Linked DNA regions of Homo sapiens: region 1 is linked to region 2. The links come from fine-mapping of genetic effects on gene expression. A gene starts in region 2. The other region holds a variant in brackets. All regions are shown on one strand. Distances are between the middles of the regions. Region 1 has its middle 44 kb from the start of MIR4686. Region 2 holds the start of ASCL2 (achaete-scute family bHLH transcription factor 2).

The links. PIP is the estimated chance that this variant, and not a neighbour inherited with it, causes the effect.
Region 1: its variant is fine-mapped to the expression of ASCL2 in whole blood (TOPMed, PIP above 0.99).

The regions. Positions count from the first base shown.
Region 1 is chr11:2,212,611-2,222,478 of GRCh38, forward strand. No RefSeq gene overlaps it. Among named protein-coding and RNA genes, the nearest start is that of MIR4686, 44 kb to the left of the region's middle. RefSeq lists enhancers at 1-373, 2,095-2,655. The variant C/T (reference allele first, on the strand shown) is at 4,757.
Region 2 is chr11:2,265,996-2,275,863 of GRCh38, forward strand. It overlaps ASCL2 (achaete-scute family bHLH transcription factor 2), which reads right to left and starts at 4,593. Exons shown (of 2, transcript NM_005170.3): 1 at 3,738-4,593; 2 at 2,503-3,131. The coding sequence starts at 4,337. The coding sequence ends at 3,756.

The DNA of each region.
Region 1 (9,868 bases), 53 kb before region 2:
GGATACGCTGGATTGTGCACTGAAAATAGCTAATTCTGGGTATGTGAACTTCACCTCCTTTTAAAAATGACAGCCCACTGAGACAGACACACAAACAGTGGGTCCCTGAGTGTGGGAAACCAAGACGGGCTGGGGCCGAGGCCAGGCCACAGACCCCAGTCGGGCGGCCTGGCTCACTCCCAGCTCTGCCTGGGGCTGGCCACGGCCTTGATCTGTGCCTTGATCTCCAGGTTTGTGGCCCTGAGCCTCCCGTGGCACCATCCCAGCTCCTGTTGAGCATGGCCCTCCCTGGGAGCCACTGTGGCCACACACACACTCCTCCGAGCACGTTTGTCCAGTCCATCCACTCTTTCTCACAATGTCCTGAAGACCTGCTAGGCAGCAGAAGCTGGCCCTGCTGGGGGAACGCAGGAGTGGGCAGGCTGCCCTGGCTCCTGCTAGCATGGAGCACACAGCCCCAGGGGCAACAGGCAAACCCCAGGAGACCCCCACCTGCAGCCTGGAGAGGGGTGCAGGCAGGGCATGCAGCAGGGGCCAGCCCCATCCCAACCTCCTCCAGCCCCTCCGGCCAACTGGCCTGCAGGCTATGCCGGGTGCCCTCATTGGCCTCTGGGCTTTTTCTGTTTTGTAACTGGTAGCCTTTTTTTTTTTTTTTTTTTTTTTTTTAAAGAACACACTTTAAGGTTTATAGAAAATGGAGCAGAAAGTACAGAAAGTTCCCTGATGCTCTACCCCCTGCCCAGCCCTCCCCCATGCCTGCAGTCTCCCCGTTACTGGCCTCTTGCATCGCTGTGGCCAGGAACCCATTGGACATTTTTTAAAGTCGCATACTTTTTATTGGGGCAAAAAACACATCACATCAATGTACTGTCCTAAATGTACACTGTTTTTCAATGCACAGTTCAGGGGCATTAGGGACACTCACACTGGTGTGCAGCCCTCACTGCCATCCATCTCCGGAACCCTTTCATCTTCCCGAGATGAGACTCTGTCCCCATTCAAAGCAAACTCCCCACCCCTCCCCCAGCCCCTGACACCCACTGTTCTACTTCCCGTCTCTGCGGATTTGATGACTGTAGGAGCCTCATGTGAGTGGCAGCACACAGCGTCCGTCCTTCCGTGTTTGGCTTTTCCCGCTGAGCCCCTGCCTCAGGTCCACCCCGTGACAGCGTGGGTCCGGATCCCCCACCGTATGAGAAGATCGCACTTTGCTTATCCACGCTGATGCTTTTTAAAAAACATTTCTGTTTATGTAATTGACAAATAACAATGCATATATTTATCCTGCACTACACGTTGTTTTGAAATACATCAATACTTAATTATTATGCAAAGGCCATAGTTTACATGAGGCTTGGAGCTCGGTGTTATAAGTTCTATGGGTTTGGACTAATACTACCCTGTATCCACTGTTACAGCACCCCATAGAGGGGTTCCACGGCCCCGAAATCCTCCATGCTCCACCTGTTTGTTCCTCCTGCCTCCCTAACCCCTGGCAGCCGCTGACGTTTGTCTTCATGGTTTTGCTGTTTCCAGAATGTCCTAAGGGTAGAACCCTACAGGATCCTACAATCCTTTGCAGCCTGGCCTCTTCCACATGTCGAGTTAGCGGTTTCTCCCTGTCTTTTTGTGGCCTGTAACTCATTTCTTCCACGGGCTTCTAGACAGGCTCAGTTCTCTCCCATCTTAAATACTCATCCCTTGAGTCCACAGACTGCCACACAGCTCGTGCCAACCTCTTTACTTCACATTAAATGTCTGGAAAGAGAGAAGGCCTGTCCACTCCCTTTCCCTGTCACCTCATGCCACCTCTCTTCTAACCACAGTCCAGGTCAGTCAGCTCCCGCACTGCCAAGGGGCCCAGTGCTTTGGCCTCCAGCCCTGGAGACCTCCTCCTGCCTTCCCAGCCCCTCATCTGTTTCTTCCCCGCTCTGCTGCTCCTCCCCAGGTCCTTGCGGGACGGCCTCTTCCACTGGGTCCGGAGCTGCTCCAGACGGCCTCCTCTCATCTTCCTGCCACAGTTGCCGGCTACACGCAGGCCACAGTCCGTCTCCCGCTAGGCCGCCTCCCTCTCCCCTGTGCTCCAACCCAGAAGCCAGCTGCCCTCTGTCACTCTCAGACGACAGACGGCAGCACGGGTCCAGCTGCCCCAGGCCCGAGCCCCGGGGCTCCTCACCGCCTGGGCCTCCTCGCCAGGCCGGACCTTGATGCTGGGTACTACTGCCCTGCCACCTGCCCTGCCACCTGCCCCGCTGGCAGCTGCTCCTTCCTGCCCCCACATTCTGTCCTTCAGACACGCCATCGGGAGGGCAGTGACATCTCCGTGGTCTCCCTTTACCCTCCTGCTCTGCCACTCTGCCTCTGCTCATCCTCCTCTGGGGAGTCAGCCTGACCTCTGCAAACATGGGCATCAGTGGGCACGTCTCCGTGCTTAGAGGCCCCCAGGGCTATCCGTCGGCCTTTGGTAAAGTCACAGGCAGAACCCACACAGAGCCTTTGTGCTAGGACTAGGCCGGCCCACCTGCCTCCCCAGGCTTTGGGTGGTGCCCACCCACCCCAGCCTCTGCAGGTCCATGCCTGACTAGCCGCAGGGCCTTTGCACACCTGCATTTTGCCCAAATTAACTCTACTGGACCCTCTCCTGTGAGGAAGGCTCCGCAGCCTCCCCAGCCAGGCCACACACCCCAGTCCTCGTTCAGGGGTACACATTTGTCCCCTTCATACACAAGCCAGGCTCCACTCTGGGCACTGGGTCACAGCCAGGAGCAAAACAGACCCAGTCCTAGAACCCGCAAAGCATCCACCCTGGGGGAAAGGAAGCAGAGATCAGAGGTGTCACTGAGCACACAGAAGCTCGAGGTGCTAAATTCCATGGAATGGAAGCCAGGAGTAGCCAGAGGGAGCACGGGTGCTGGGGGGTAGGTGAGGGTGACTGAGACAGCCACTGGGGGGTACGTGAGGGAGGACCGGGACGGGCGCTGAGGGGTAGGTGACGGGGGACCGGGACGGGTGCTGGAGGGTACATGAGGGAGGACTGGGACAGGCGCTGCGGGGGTAGGTGAGAGGGGACCCGGAAGGCCGCTGGGGAGTAGGTGAAGGGGACTGGGACGGGTGCTGGGGGGGTAGGTGAGGGGGGACCGGGACGGGCGCTGGGGGATAGGGGAAGGGGGACCAGGACGGCCACTGTGGGGTAGGTGAGGGGGGACCGGGAGCAAGTCCCAGACAAGTGAGTTTTCAGAAGCCCGCGAGGCCCTCAAGTGGACAGGCCAAGTGTGTGACCAGGGCTTGGGGAGACGTGAGGGTGAGGTAGCTGTCTGCAGAGGGTGCAGGAGAGCAGCCACCCAGGAGGCCCACCTGGGGCCCTCAGTGTCAGAGGCCGCGGAGCCTGGCTTCTGCTTGCCCCCACTGCCCCGGGCCTTCTCCTGCCCTGACCCACAAGCCCTGTGGGGGTCCCTGCCCGGCCCAGATCCCCCCACTATATCCCAGTGTGTCCAGTAGGTGCTCAGTCAGTGCCAGCAGACTGGATGGATGCAGCTGGACCAAGAGGCACTCCGGACAGACCCCCAGAGGAGCTGAGGATGGGGCCTCCCTGCGGGATGCACTGGGCGCACCGGATGCTCAGGGTGGTCTCACCATCGTGCCCCCTTCACAGAGAGGACCCTGAGCCTGGGATGCGCAGGTCCTCACCTGAGGAAAGTAGGCACCAGCCAGGTGTAACCTGGGCCAGATGGGCAGCCCCGAGGGCCGCGCCCCACCTCTCAGGCCCCGCTCACAGCCAGGCCCCAGGGCTGCTCCCAGGCCCCTGGGAGAGCAGGGTGCCGTGGGCGGTCAGCAATGGGTGCAGGGTCTCCTGAGGTCAGGAGGGAGCTCAGAGCTGCTTCTTCCCTTCTCCTTTCTCAGCTGCCTATCACCCCACCCTCTAAACAGCAGGGAGCCCGGCATAGACACACTTGTGGCTACCCCACCCTCACACCCTCAGAAATCCTCAGGGAGACAGGTCGTACACCGCCCATCCTTGCAATGGGCTCCCTGCCCCCTTTCTCCTGGAGGGCACCAGGCACACACAGGTACACACACAAACACGCAAGGCACACACACAGACACGCACAGACATGCACAGCCACACACAGATAAACACAAACACACACAGCTATGCACAGCACACACAGCCACACAGCCACAAAGACACACACAGACACACAGCCACAAAGACACACACGGACACGCACAGACACACAGCCACACAGACACACACAGACACACAGACACACAGAGACTTGCACAGCCACACACAGATAAACACAAATATACACAGCCATGCACAGCACACACAGCCACACATGGGCACACAAAGGTACACACAGACACACACAGCCACACATGGGCACACATAGCCATACCCAGATAAACACAAATACACACAGCCACACACAGTACACATAGCCACACAGACATGAACAGACAAAACACAGACACACAGAGCCACACACAGATAAACACAAATACACACCATCATGCACAAACAACAGGGACGCACAGCCACACACGGACACACACAGGTATGCTCAGACACATGCAGGTGCACAGAGACGTATGGGCACACACAGACACACAAAACAGGGGCACACACAGGCACGCAGAGACGTGCCCATCCTCTCACAGCCACACGTACCCACAGCCACAGCCACACCCATGGGCACCCAGCAACACCCGCCCTCCCAGCACAGCTGCCTGCCCACAGGGACACCACTACCAA[C/T]GCCCAGCACCGACACCCTGGCACCAACGCCCAAAAAACGTCCTCAGCGGTGCCCACCCAGGCCGGCAGGCTCAGACAGACACCGCTGCTGCAGCGAGTGTGCCTGGAGTCCCACCTGCTGGGACAAGGAGACCTACAGGTGTGGATGCTGCCCGCTGCCTGCTGTAGGGGGCCAGGACCTCTGAGCCTGGCTGAGCTGGGCACCCCCGTCCCATGCCCAGGGGGTGCTGCAGGACTGTGGCCAGGCCAAGCCTTCCCAAGGCACCTCTTGGGGCCAGAGCAGCTTCCCAGGACAGCCCCCATGCCTGGCAGGCTCTCTGTGGGCTCCCCCTGTTCCAACGCCCTGTGGACCCAGCCTTGGAAGCTTCACAATGCCCGGTGCGAGGAGGACACGTGGTAATGAGAAAGGTGCCTGGAGCTGTCCAGCCTGCAGCATGCTGCCAGCGCCTCACTGGGTCCTCATGCCCTGTGCCCACTGGGTCCCTATACCAGCCTCTGCTCCGCCTGGCCCTTACACCCTCGGCTCCACCTGACTCCTACACTGGCTCTGCAACCATTCCCAGCCACAGAGGTTGGCTGCAAGTACTCACAGCTGCCCCTCCTCAGTGACTCGTTCTCAGGCAAACAGGAGGCTATGCCCCAGCCCAGGGGCAGCCCACGCTAGGAGTGACCACCCAGGAATATGAAACCCAGTCCCCTTACCTCAAAGCCCAGCCTACTATAGTACAATTTATGCCCCAGAGCTCCCTGAGGCTGTCTGCTGCCGAGACCCCCTCTTGCTTGCCTGTGTTCTCAGCCTCTTCTCTTCCTGGGAGGGCACCCCTCCCCCAACAAATCCCATGCATGAGAAACCCCACTGCAGATTCTTCTTCAGGGGAACAGGCCTGAGACAGTTGGTGCCAGGCATGGCACTGGGAAGCTGAGCCCAGGTGTGGGCTCTGTGATCAGCTCTCTCACTGACCAGGGCAAGGAGGAGCCCCTCATGGGGGTGAGCAGGGGAGGAGTGGATAGAGCCCCTGGCAGGCTAGAGCAGAACACTGTGGGATCACAGACCACCTGGTGCCATGTCCCCAGCACTTGAGAACTATGGGGAAACCTTAAGCAAAGAGCTGTGGAACGGGCAGCTTTTGCTGAGAGCCATGAAGGTCCTGAAGGAAGAAAACCCCAAGTTCAGATCTATAAATTCACAATCCAAGATCCAGTGTGAGAGTCCTAACGAGGTCATGGGTGTGGGCTTTTGTCTTACTCTGTTTGTGTTGCTATAAAGGAATACCTGAGACTGGGTAATTGATAAAGAAATGAGATTTATTTGGCTCATGGTTCTGCAGGCTGTACAGGAAGCATGGCACCTGCATCTGCTGCTGGGGGGGGCCTCAGCCTGCATCCACTCATGGCGGGAGGGTGAGAGCCGGTGTGCAGAGACCACATGGTGAGAGAGGAACCAAGAGAGAGGGAAGGTGCTGGGCTCTTCTTAACAATCAGTGCTCATGGGAACTCAAAGTAAGAACTTAGTTCTCACCCTCCTCCAGGGAGGGCATTAATCCACTCATGAGGAATCCATCCTCATGACCCCAACGGCTCACATCAGGCCCCCACCTCCAACACTGGGCATCAAATTTCAACATGAGGTTGGGGGACAAACATCCAAACTATAGCATTCCTCCCCAGTCCCCCCAAATTTATGTCCTTCTCACATGCAAAATACAATCATCCCATCTCAGGAGTCCCCTAAAGTTTTAGCTTCTTCCTGCATCCATTTAAAAGTCCAAAGTGCAAAGTCTCATCTAAGACTCAAGGCAAGTTTCTTTCAGGTATGAGCCTGTAAAATCAAAATCAAGTCATTTACTTCCAAGGTACAATGGTGGGACAGACATTGGGTAAACATTCCCATTCCAAAAGGAAGAAATTGACCAAAAGAAAGGCAGGACAGGTCCCACACAAGCTTGAAACCCAGCAGAACAGACATTAAATCTTAAAGCTCCCAAATCTCTTTTGACTCCATGTCCCACATCCCACGCTGGAAGGAAGGGTGGGCTCCCAGGACTCTGGACAGCCCTGCCCCCATGGCTTTGCTGAGCCCAGCCCACGTGGCTACTCTCACAGGTTGGAGTCCAATGCCTGGGGCTTTTCCAGGCTGCGATTGCACACTGCTGGTGTCTCTGTAATTCTGGGGTCCCCCTGGCAGCCCCATTCCCACAGCTCCAGTAGAAGAATATCTCCGAAGGGCTCTATCCCTGCAGCAGGGTTCTGCCTGGGCACCCAGGCTTTCCAATACACCCTTTGAAATCTAAATGGAAGTGGCCAAACCTCCAGCACTTTTGCATTCTGGATTCCTGCAGACTTAACAATACATGGAAGCCAGCAAGTCCCATGCCTCGTGCTCTGCAGGGCAGCTGTCCAAGCGGTATCTGAGGCCATTGGGACCATGGCTGGATCTGGGGTGGCTGGGATGTGGGAAGCAGCATCCCAAGGTGGTCCACAGCAGTGGCACCCTGGACCTGACCCTCCAAGCCACTCTGTTCTGCTAGGCCTCTGGGCCTGTGATGGGCAGGGTGGCCTCAAAGTCCTTCAAAATACCTTCAGGGCCCTTTCCCCATTGTTTTGACTGTTAGCATTATACCCTCTTTCAGTCATGCCAACCCCTCTAGCAACCGGTGTCACAAAGGACCTTGAATTCCTCTCCTGAAAACATTCTTTGCTTCTCTACCACAGGCCAGGCTGAAAATTGTCTAAATTTGTATGCTCTACTTCCCTTTTTATTAGAAATTCTACCTTTAGATCATTCCTTTGCTGTTGTAGTGATTGTAAGTTGTTAAAAGTAGCCATGGTACTTCTGGAACACTCTGCTGCTTAGAAATTTCTTCCACTAAACATTCTGGGTCATCACTCTTAAGGTTAGCCTTCTACAAAGCCTTAAAGCACGGACACAATGCAGTTGCAACCTTTGCTAGGGGTTAACAAGGGTGATCTTCGCTCCAGTCCCCAGTAAGTTCCTCATTTCTATCAGAGACCTCATCAGCATGGCCTCTATTGCCTGCATGTCTATCAGCATTTTAGTCACAACCACTTAACTAGTCTCCAAGAAGTTTAAAACTTTCCCTCATCTTCTTGTCTTCTTCTGAGCCCTCCAAACTCATTCAACCTCTGCCCATTACTCAGTTCCAAAGCCACTTCCACATTTTCAGGTATCTTTATAGCAACACCCCACTCTCAGTACCAATTTTCTCAGTCCACTTGTGTTACTATAAAAGCACACCTGAGACTGGGTAATTTATAAAGAAAAGAGGTTTATTTGGTTCATGGTTCTGCAGGCTGTACAGGAAGCACGGGGCCTGCATCTGCTGCTGGTGAGGGCCTCAGGCTGCTTCCACTCATGGTGGAGGTGAGGGGGAGCCAGTGTGTGCAGAGACCGTATGGCAAGAGAGCAAGCCAGAGAGATGGGAGGGAGGTGCTAGCCTCTTTTTAACAACCTGCTCTTGAGGGAACTAATAAAGTGAGACCTCATTTGCCCCGCTCTACCAGGGAGGGCATTAACCTGTTCATGAGGGATCTACTCCCATGACCCAAACACCTCCCATTAGGCCTCCACTTTCAACATTGGATCAAATTTCCACATGAGGTTTGGAGTGGACAAACATCCAAATTCTAGCAGCTTTAATCCAACCTGACTGATATACTTGTGAGAAGAGGAGATTAGAACCCAGACACACACAGGGGGAGGACCCTGTGAGGACACAGCTAGAAGGCAGCCATCTGCCAGCCAAGGGGAGAAGCCTCAGGAGGAACCAGCCCTGTGACACCTTGATCTTGGATTCCAGCCTTCAGGACTGAGGAGGATAAACTTCTGGTTATTAAGTCCCCCAGTCTATGGTACTTAGTTATGGCAGCCACAGAAAGTGAATTCGGGCAGCAAAGAGGAAATGGCACCAGTTGGCCTTACCCACAGGGGTCTTTGAGAAGGATAATAGAGCATGATGCTCCTAGAGGGGACAGGTGGGCAACCAACCAGGTGACCCTTTAATATAGAAACAAGGGATCAAGACTGGATGCCTGAGGCTGAGATCATTCTCTCAAATGCAATCCTGACCCCTTGACCATTTCCAGACCTCAGCCAGTTCTCAGACCCAGACTCACCAATGGAAAGAGAAGCTGGGTCCCCATGAGGCAGGACCCTGAAACAGCATACCAAATGCAACCTGTGGTATGTCCTCAGTCCTTTCCCCAAGGGACCTACAGCCACTGAATCAGATCATCACAGCTGATAACTGAGGGACACAACTATCTTTGCAGGGCTGTTGCATATGGAGTCTGCATAACACTCATAACACTGGTACTAGGGGACCCAAGTGCCATCATGGGCCCCCCATTAAAGAAGCAGCATAGGGGAGTTAGATAATAAGTGGAAATCTGGCCCAGGTCTATCTCATGGGGTGGGCTATGTTCATGAACCCATTTGAAGATTACGCCCCCAGTTCCTACACAAATAATCAACATGGACCCATAAGCAGGCAGACTCCTTCATCAGCTCCTTGACCTTTGTGGTAAGACCTATTATGGCAGGAAAGAACAAGTAGAAGTCCCTGAACCTGCCTTTACTCCAAAGCCAGAAAATAAGTCAAAACTGATGACACTCTCCAAGGCTTTTCACCCACTTCTGGCAAAGACGAAGTAACAGGAACTGGGTTTCCCCTCTCAGCTGAAATAATAAGCAAAAAGATTGAAGAAGAAAAAAAAAAAGAAACACTGGTTTTCAAGAAAGGATATTGGGCAAAGAAGGACAGTGATCCCCAAGAGAAGAAAAACAAAGTGAGCCCTACAATTGCCTTGTCTTGCTGCCCTGAGAGAGTTTTTGGACTGCAATACAGGGAGGAAAATTGAGGCAGAGCCCAATGAATCCAAGTTGAGGTAACAGAATTGGGGGTTTGGGGAGACCAAGGTGGCTAGAGTTTGCAGGGCAGAGAAGAGAGTGGTACAAAGAGTGAACCCTGGAGATCTCCAGAAGGTTCCCCCTAAAATATTCAGCAGGATACATTCATCACAGGCCTGGGAGGGAATGACCCAAGCCTGGAAGGACCAACTGAAAGGGTTCGGGGCTGCAAGACCCAGTACCTA
Region 2 (9,868 bases):
CCGCTGGGACAGCAAGTTACATCGTCGCTACAAGTCCTGTCTCCTGGGAGATGCAGTCCAGCAGCACTACATCCTCTGAGCAGCAGGTGCCAAGTGGGATGAACTGGATAAGGACTGCATTCGGGGAAACGCCCGTGTGAAAGGAAATACACAGGAAGGAGGTGGCAACGGGTGGGAAGCCACTAGACCACGACGCGATTCTGCCCCAGTGAAGGCGAGGGGATAGCCTGGGCCTAGATCGCTGTGAGGTCTATGGAAGTTTCCACAAGCTTGCTGGGTAGTTCTCGAGGCAAACTCGGAAAGGGAGTCCCTTGTCTCCCTGGAACGGATCTTTCTTGGCATCTCTGTCACACTCATTAGGTGGGCCTGGTGTCAACCCCATTTGCAGGCCACCCCAAACTTGATCAAAGGTCCGCTTCTGGCACCCCATACCCTGTCCTACAGGAAATACAGGGACAGGCTCCCAATAACAACACCCAGCACGGTGCCATCAACACCACCACGCACACGGGGGCTCAACGGAACAGACATCTCCGCTTCTTCAATGAAGACACTGGAGGGAAATTGCTTACAAGGCGCTTAAGAGACCTATTAAGCAAACTTGATGTGTGGACCTGCGGCGGATCCCGATTCTATAAGGCCAACTGCACAAAACCACGAGACCCCCTGAGGACTGCGCCATTGGCTGGGTCCCCGATGATATGAAAGAACGGTGGTTCATTTGAGCGGGTGATGTTTTTGCGGTTTCCTTTAGAGGCACACGTGAAACATGACGGGTGAAAGGATTCAAAGTCTGGGATTTGCTTCAAAGCAACGCAGGGATGGCGTGGGGGATGGATGGGGCAGGAAGGGCCTTGAAACTGGTGCTGGAGGCTTCCCAGGGCTGCCCTGGAGCCCAGTGCGTCCTCCACCGGCCAGACTGTACAACGGTTGGATCCTGTGTCCACTGCTAGGACCCAGGCTCCACGAGCACGGGCTTGTGTGGCACACGGATGCACCCTAAGTCCTGGCACAGAGACTGCTCAACAAAGGCCTCGGTGCTTTTGTGTATGTTTGAAATTTTCCATAATAAAATGAAAAATGGGAAAATGGGAAAACAAAAATGGCAGCACTACTTACCCTCTGCAGAGTTTTGTCCGCTTCACGCCAGTGGGTGGCAGTCGTTTCCTCTGCCCTGGCCTTCCATCGTTTCCCCCCTACCCTCTTCACCCACCCAACAGCCCCCTGTGGTCCTGGCAGCTGTGGGCCTTTCCTTGAGGTCAAGGTGTGGAGTCCTGGGGAGGGCTCAGGGAGGCCACCGACCCGGGTGTGGATTCTGGGAGAAGCCTGTGGGATGTCCCTCCCTGGGTGACCACGGCAATGTGCCCCCTCCTGTCCCTTGGCCAAGGCCAGTTCCCTGAGCCCTGCAGCCCCAAGCCACAGCTGGTCCACTGACCCCAGTTGAGCCTGGTCCTCATCAGACCAGCTGACCCCTTTGACCCCCGCTACAGACTCGGCTTTGACCTTGGCTGCTGAGGAGCCCCCACCTGGACTGAGGCTGCAGCTGGCGAGAGAGGAGCCCTGAGCTCCTCTGATAAGAAGGGACCTGGCCAGCCTGACGTTTGAGACCCAGGCATCCCGGTAGCCTGGGTGTCCTGTTGCCGTGGTTATTCAGGAGCCACCCACTCTGGGACAACACCAGCTGCTCCCACCTCGCAGGGCTCCCACGGCTCTGTCCCAACCACTCCTTTCTGAAGGAAGGGGTGCCTCTGCGCCCTAAAGAAACCGGGGGAGCCCCACAACCCCTCCCCCACCAGGACACTAAAAGGCAGCTTTCGGTACAGTGAGACATCAAAGCCTCCTAGGCCCTGAGTCAAAGGTATAGCCGTGTAATATCCCAGTGCCAGCTCTCCGGCTGCGGGGAGCCTGGCGCAAAGCTTCCAAGCCTTCCTTGTTCCTTTCAAGAGCCGCTCTTAGAATTCAGGTGAGCGGAGACCTGCAGGGCCTCCCCAGTGCGGGCAAAACCCAAAGCTAGCGAGAGGGCAGCCTCCAGGCACCTCTCACTAACTCCTCCCAGAGGCCGTTGAGGTGGGTCTGGTCAAACCCATTTGCAAGTTAACCCACTTGCCCTGGGCTGCCCAGCTGCCACGTTAGTGGAGATCTGAGCGTGGTGGCCTGCGCAGGAGCCCATGCCCTCAGCCCCACAGCCGGTGCTCTCTGGTCAGACCACCTCAGCCTAGCCCCACACCCAGCACTTACCCCAGCCCTCGGGATGGGTCAGCAGCCTCCAGCCTGCAGCTTCCAAGCCAGCGAGTAGCCCTGTCTGGACAACCCACCAGCCCACCACCTCCTGGAGGATGCCCCCAGCCTCACAAGGTGTCCCAATGGCTCCGCTATCAACGGCCTGGCTGCACTCCAGATCTCACCCAGACCCACCCTACGGAGGAGGCAGCAGGGTTTGAGGAGTAGTGACCACGGAAGTCTGGCCGTCACCTGGGAAGTGTAGGTGATAGGAGCCACTGGTAAACAGAACTGATTTATTTATAAAGTTCACGCTCCCTTGAAGAGGTGTGCCCCACACAGGCTTCTCCCTAGCAGAGCAGCAGTGCCCACAAACCCACCCCAGGGTGGGCTGTCACGGGGGCCTCACGCCAGGGACCCCGCCCCTCAGGGACTGCTCGTGTCCAGATCTTGGCCAGCATGGAAAACTCCAGATAGTGGGGGCAGGGGTCCAGGTCATCTTTATTACGCCCCAGGTCAAGGGTTCTTTGTACAAAAATAGGTCTCCGTTTGCCAGCAGTGTCCCTCCAGCAGCTCAAGTTAATGTGTAGAAAATGGATTCTCTGTGCCCTTAGAAAATCCTCTCCCCTCCGGAAAAATCTCCAAGTGTTGGTGCCCCCCGCCCCACTGCAGTCGAGAAGCTGTGGGGAGGGGCGGCGTCGGAGGAAGCCGCCAGCCCTTATGGGGCCAGCTCCAAGCCCGTTTCCACCGCGGCATTGGTCAGGCTGGGCCGGACGAACGAGGCGGCGTCGGCGGTGCGGGGGGTGGTGGGTGGGTCCCCGGCTCGCTGGGGGCGGAGCGCGGGCCGGTCCACCTGGCGGGCTCCCCGGCGATGAGCGCGCCGGCCGCTCGCTCGGCTTCCGGGGCTGAGGCTGCGGGGGGAAGGTGGGGAACCAAACGCGCGTCAACGCGGGCGCGGGCCCGGGGCAGACCCCGCCCGGGCCGGCCCTGCCCGCACCTCCCCCAAGCGAAGTCGGCAGTTTCGTTTGCTCGGTTGGTTTTGGAGTCTTGAGTCCGTGGGTGCCGCGACTCGGTCTGAGACACGGCGGGGGCGGGGCGGGCGCTCGGAGCCGCGGTGAGTCAGGGCTCCGCGCCCGCCGACTCATTTCTGCCGCCCCGGCCCGGGAGCGCGATTTGCAATGCAAAGTCACCCCGCCTCCAGCACCCCAATCTGCCCCAGGATCCGCCAGCACTAGAGACCTCAACGGCCCGACGGCCGCTCCCCTCCCCTCGTCTACCCCTCCCTCGTCGGCGGCTGAGCCGCGAGGGGAAGTTTTGCAATCCCGGACAAACAAACGCCGGTCTTGCACGGGCTTGAAAAACTTTGGGGGAAATGAAGAGTGAGCGAAATCGAAGCCATCGCTCGGGCCTGGCGCTCGGCTCCGCGGGCTCCTGGGGGCGCGACCCGCCGGGCCTGCCCACCCCGTCCCTCCACCCCGGCCCCCGGCCCTCCCTCCTCCCTGCCTCCCGGCTGTTACCTCATAGGTCGAGGGCGCTCAGTAGCCCCCTAACCAGCTGGAGAAGTCGAGTAGCTCGCGCTCCGCAGGACTCAGCGCGCCTTCGCAGCCGCTGTCGTCCGACGAGTAGGCGGAACGCGGGGAGCCGGGCTCCGAGCTGCCCCCGCGGCCCGGGGACGAAGAAGCGCGGGAGGGCGAGGCGGCGACCGGGGTGGTCCCTGGCGGCCCGCGGGGCGCAGACGGCCGCACGGCCTGCGGCCTCAGCCCTCCCGCCAGCGCGTTGCGCACGGCGTCGTGCTCGGCCAGCAGGCGCTGCAGCGCGCGGATGTACTCCACGGCTGAGCGCAGCGTCTCCACCTTGCTCAGCTTCTTGCTGGCGCCGCCGTGCGGCACGTGCTGCCGCAGCGCCTGGAAGCCCAAGTTCACCAGCTTCACGCGGTTGCGCTCGCGCTCATTGCGCCGCGCTACGGCCGCTGCGCCGCCTCCGGTCTCTGCGGTGGCCGGTCGCCGCCGCCGGCTGCAGCGCAACAGTTCCGGGGACGCGGGTCTCCGCCGGGCAGCGCAGCCGACAGGGACGGGGGGCGCAGGGGGCGCGGACCTGGGCAGTGTGCCGCCGTCCATCGCGCCTGCATCCACCCGCCCGCTCCAGGTCCCGGCGCGCCGCAGGAAGGTGCAGGCAGAGGAACCGGAGGCGACGGGGAAAACTGTGGCGCCCCAAGGGGGCTTCTGGCACGGCGCCGCCAGGCAACTCCCCAGGGCACGCGTCCTAGGTCGTCTGGAGCCCGGGGATAGGAGGCCTAGTGGTGGCAGGCCGTACGCGCCAGGGAGCGTGGGACGCTCGTGTCCCGCGCGTGCGGCCGGACTCTCCCAGGTCTCCGCAGGCGCGGCGCAGGCGGCTGGTTTTTAAATGTATAGATAACCCTCCTCCGCGCCGCCGCCGTCGCCTTTCTCACGCCCTCCTTCCTTCGCCTCGCCCTCCCGCCACGCTTCGCCCTCCCCCTCGCGCGATCACATTCTGTAAGGCCCAAAGCGTGCGCATGTCCCCCTAGCCCATCCCCCGGACGCAGTCCACAGATCCCCAGTGCGCCCAACTGGCGAAATCTGCGAGTTCCCGGTGCGCCCCCTGCTCCCGGCAGGTGCTTAGTGCGCCCCCAAAGCAAGGTACGCAGGTCCTGGGTTGAGCCTTCCCGTACCCCCACCCTAACCCCGCGCGCAGCCCCGCCAGTCCCAAGAGCCGCCAGACCTTCGCACGCGCAGCGCGCGCTGTGGGAGGGAAGGCGCGGCCCTGGCGACAACACGGCTGTTCGGGAGGCGCGCAAGATCCCCGGGGGCAGCACGCGCCGCGCAGCCCACACCCACGCCCCACCCTCCTGGGGCCGAGGAGGCGGGGGCCAGGGTCTCAGCCAATCGTGGGCCACCCGTTTGGCCAATCGCGCAGGGCGCGGCTCCACGCCCGGCCCCATTGAGGAAGCGCGTACGCGTGGCGCGTGGCTCACGGGGAGCATCGCTAACAAAGCTGGGTTCCTGCTGGGCCCCGCCCTGCTCCTCGCCCCCGCGACTGGGCTGGGCGCGCTGTCCCCTAGCGCAGCTATGTCCCGAGCGCGCCCCCACCTGTGCGTTAATCTACTGGGAATGGGGGTGGACTGCGCCTTACCTGGGGCGGGGTGGGGCTTAAGGAGTGGTCGAGACTGAGGCGGGGTGGGAGGTTCAGGTTCCCGGGGCGCCTTCCCCAACCCGCCCCGCTTTCCCCGTCCCTCCACGCGCACCCTGCCTGTGGTTTCCGTGCGCCCCCGGCCTGAGGGCTCTGGGCGGCACCTTAACCCGGAGGGCCTGGAGGTCTGCACCCGACCGCCTTGTGCCAGGACGGTCAGGTCCACGCCCTCCCCCACCGTGGCTCCCTCCATCTGCAGTATCCCCCACCTCCAGCCCGTCCTGCCCTCCTGTTCTCCGTCTCGCTTCCCGTCGGTGCCTCCGGGATCTCACAGCCCTCGCACCTCTTTTGTGACCCAGGCTGTTTTTCTGCACCCCCCTCTCCCCTGAGGGCACTGAGATTGGGCCATTGGCCTGAAGGTCTCTGGGAGCAGCACCCTTCCAGGGGAGGTGGGACGTCGAGAACTTCTCCCTAAGAGATGCGGGGAAATGGTGGGGCCTGAGAGTGCAAACACTGCAGAAATGCGAAAAATGTAGTGTTAACGGAAGAGTTTAGGTCCTGCCTCACTGTCCGGGAAACGCGTGCCCTCGGGGGAGCCTTTGCCAAGCCGGTTTTTCCCGAAGGTGACCAGATGCTCCTGGGCCACTGCCTCTGAGACCTCAGGGAACGGAGATTTTTGTGGACCCAGCTGCCTGGAGCTGCTTTCCTGTTCCGGCCGGAGGAGGTGAGGCCCAAGACCCCTCCTGGGAGCCTGGGGGCAGATAGCCAGTGTTTACTGCCAGCCTCGGGGTGCCCACCTGCTCCCATTACCCTGCAGGATGCTGCTGGCTGGCCCACCTGGGCCCCCAGCACACCTGTGTCTCGAGTACGCCTGGCCCTCCTGCCTTGGGAGGGGCCGGAAGAGTAGCACCTGCCTGGGAGCTGGTGGTCTGCGGTCTCTATTTGGCAGATGAGGAAGCCGACTTGGAGAGAACCCTGGATGTGTCCACAGTCACTCCTCCGCCCAGTGGAGCGATCCAGGCAGAAATCGGGGCCCTGAGTCTGAATCCGGGTTCTGCAACCAGGGCAGATGCGGGCTTGCCTCTGCTCCCTGTCCCTGGTCTGAGAGCCCATTCTTCCCAGATGGTCACTTGGCAAATCACAGCCTGGCATGGATTGTTCTGCCCTCCTTCTGCTGCCTCCCTCCTTCCCCTTGTCAAGGCTGCAAGACCAGGATCTAGGAACGATCCTGGAGCCCTGCAAACTAGGCCTTGGAAATCCCTGCTGGATTTCCACCTCCCGGGCTGGGAGCCCCTCGGTCATCTGTTGCTGTGTAAGGAGCCACCAGGATTTTAGCGGTCTGAACAACGATGTATTATTTCTCAGGATTCTGTGACTTGATGGGTGGGCCCTCTGCTGCTCTGGGTGTGGCTGCATACACCCCGGGGGTCAACAGGGACGAGCGGTACAGCGGCTGGGTTGCTCTCTACCCGGTCTTCGTCCAAGCCCCTCCACAGCTGGTAAGATCTCCGGAGCAGGACCTGCAAGCCCTCTTCAGATCACCCCAGAACTTCCTGTCTAAAAACTGAAGCCTCTCACTGCCCAGGCATGGCTTCTTGCTACCCTGCCCTCAGGCACAGTCCTGCACCCACCTGCGTCTGCTGTGCCATGTCCAGGCCAGTCCCCCCCCACCACCAACACCTCTCTCTATCTTCATCCTCTTCCCAATCTGGTCCTCCCACCGCTGTGGAAACCCCGTCTGCCCCCAAAGCCTAGCTTAAAAATAATTCCCTAGGGACCTGTGTCTCTCCCTGCCTCGGCCCCTCCTTCATTCCTGGGTGCCTCCGGCTGTGCAGCATTTGACACTGCAGCACCCCCCTTAATTCGGAAGCATGCTGTCTCCTGGACTGGTGAGTCTCCACACTATCTGAGCCGTCTTCTCTGGAACTCTTGGCCTCTCAGTCCGTTCTGAGAATACAGCCTTGGTAAGCACGGTGCCCACATGAATGTTTCCAGCAGCAGGATTCAAAATAGCCACATGTCCATCAACAGATGAGTGGATAAACAAAACATGGTCCAGAATAATGGAAGATTACTCAGCCCTAAAAAGAGACGAAGCTGGTGAACCTCGAGAACACGAGGCCGCGTGAACGAAGCCAGACACCGAGGACCACGTAGCGTGAGACTCTCAGTCTATGAAATGTGCGGAGTCGATAAATTCACAGAGACAGAAAGGAGATTCACGGTTGCCAGGGGCTGGGGAGTGACAACAGAGGGATGGGGGTGACTGTGAAAGGGTACGTGGTTTCTTTCCCAGAGGATAAGAACGTTCTAACATGGCCTGTCCTGTTGGCTTCACAGCTCTGTACAACACACAAAAAAACCATTGAAATGTACACTTTGTGGAATGTGAACTGTATCTTGATAAAGCAGTTAGAAGACCTTCGAACATAAGCATGCGGCCTCATGGGGCCTTTGCCTGGGCACCCTGGCACCTCTCCCAGGCTCTACCTATCTCCGACTTCATTCCTGAGCTCTTGAACAGGGGTAAGGCAAACTTTTTCTGCAAAGGAACACGTGGTAAGTATTTTCGGCCTTGACGGTCACATGTCTCTGCCACGAGTCGTCTGCCTTGGGGCGCAAATGCAGGCTTGGGCAGGGAAGAAATAACAAAACTTGCTTCCTGGTCACTGAAACATGAAGTCCAGGTCACACTCACTGTTACAAAATACTCCGAATTTTCAGACTGTGGTTCAATACACATGACATAAAATGGACCTTCTTAACCATTTGTAAGTGCACGGTTCCGTGGAATTCAGTATATTCATGTGGCTGTGCAATCATCACCACCATCCATCTCCAAAAGTTTCTCATTTTCCCAAACCGAAAGTCTGTCCCCATTAAACAGCAGCTTCCCATGACCCTTCCCCCAGCCCCTGGCACCCACCATCCACTCTGTGTCTGTAGATTTGACTGCTCTGGAGACCTCCTGTAAGTGGAATCCTACAGCATCTGTCTTTTTGTGGACCGGCTTCTTACACTGATGCTGATGCCCTCGAGCTTCATCCATGTCGTAGCCTGCATAAGGATTTCCTCTCTTTTTATGGGTGAATAATATTCCACTGTATGGGTAGACCACGGTGTTGATCCGTTCCTCCGTCAGTGGATGCTGGGGTGGTTTCCACCCTTGGGCTACCGTCAGTGACGCTACTGTGGACATGGGGGTACAAATATCTCTTTGAGATCCTGCTTTCAGTTCTTTTGGGGATAGACGGAGAAGCGGAGTTGCCAGGTCATACGGCAAACCTCTGTTTAACCTTTTGAGGGACCACCATGTTGTTTTCCGCAGTGGCTGCCCACAGTACATTCCTGCTGCGCACGAGGTTCTGATGTCTCCACATCCCCGCCCACACTTGGTGCTTTCTGGGTTTGTTTCGTTTCGTTTTGTTTTTGTTTGTTTTTGAGACGGAGTCTCGCTCTGTCTCCCAGGCTGGAGTGCAGTGGCGCAATCTTGGCTCACTGCGACTTCTGCCTCCCGAGTTCCAGCCATTCTCTAGTTTCAGCCTCCCGAGTAGCTGAGACTACAGATACGTGCCACCATGCCCGGCCAAATTTTTATTTTTTGTAGAGATAGAGTCTGACTATGTTGCCCAGCCTGGCTGAGGTGATAATAGTTTTTTGATGATAGCTAATGGGTATGGATTTTAATTTTTTAACCACTTAAGAATTTAAAGAAAATTCCTAGCTTTTGGGCAATACAAAAGCAGGCCAGGGGCTGGATCTGGCCCATGGGCCTCGGTCTGCTGACAGCTGCTCCAGAGGACTGGTATGTCCACGTGACACCTGGCCCGACCCCCATCCTCCTGCAGCTCCTCAAACTCAACTTGTTGCAGGTTGAACTCGGCCTCCTTTCCTCTAAGGAAAGATCCCCTCCGCAGCAGAGAACACCAGGTCGGCAGTGTGGGCACTGCCCTTCCTCTCCCCTGCCCTCTGCTGTACGTCAGCCCAGCCGCTTCTCCAGCCAGGTCCCCATCTTGCCTTGGACACTGCCCCTGCCTCTGCCCTGGTCTCCTGGGTTCTCAGTTTGCTGCTTCTGTCTGTGCACCGCCTGGAAGTGGGGGGGCCTTACCCAGCATCCAGCCCAGCTAGATCATGTCCGGGCCCTCGGGGTTCAGGCCCAGCACCCTCACGTGCCATCACTCACTGCCTCCTCTCCAGCTCGGACGTTGTATCTCCTGGAAGCCTTCCCTGATCCCAGTGGCCTCCTGAAGCCTCCTCGCCCCTGTGCTCCACAGGGAGCTGTGCTGCCCGGGCCTGCTCTGTCCAATAGGCTAACCTGACCTGCTCCTTCGACATCTAAGGTGCTGCTCATGTGTATTCATGACCTGGGTGGATGTTGGGGAGCCCAGGCCCAGCAAAGAGGGGCAGGAGCAGGCAGTTCCGGGGTTGGCGATGGCCCAGGGGAAGCTTTCGGCCTGGTTGGTCAGAGCTCCTGGTGACCAAGGGTGACTTCAAAGTCAAC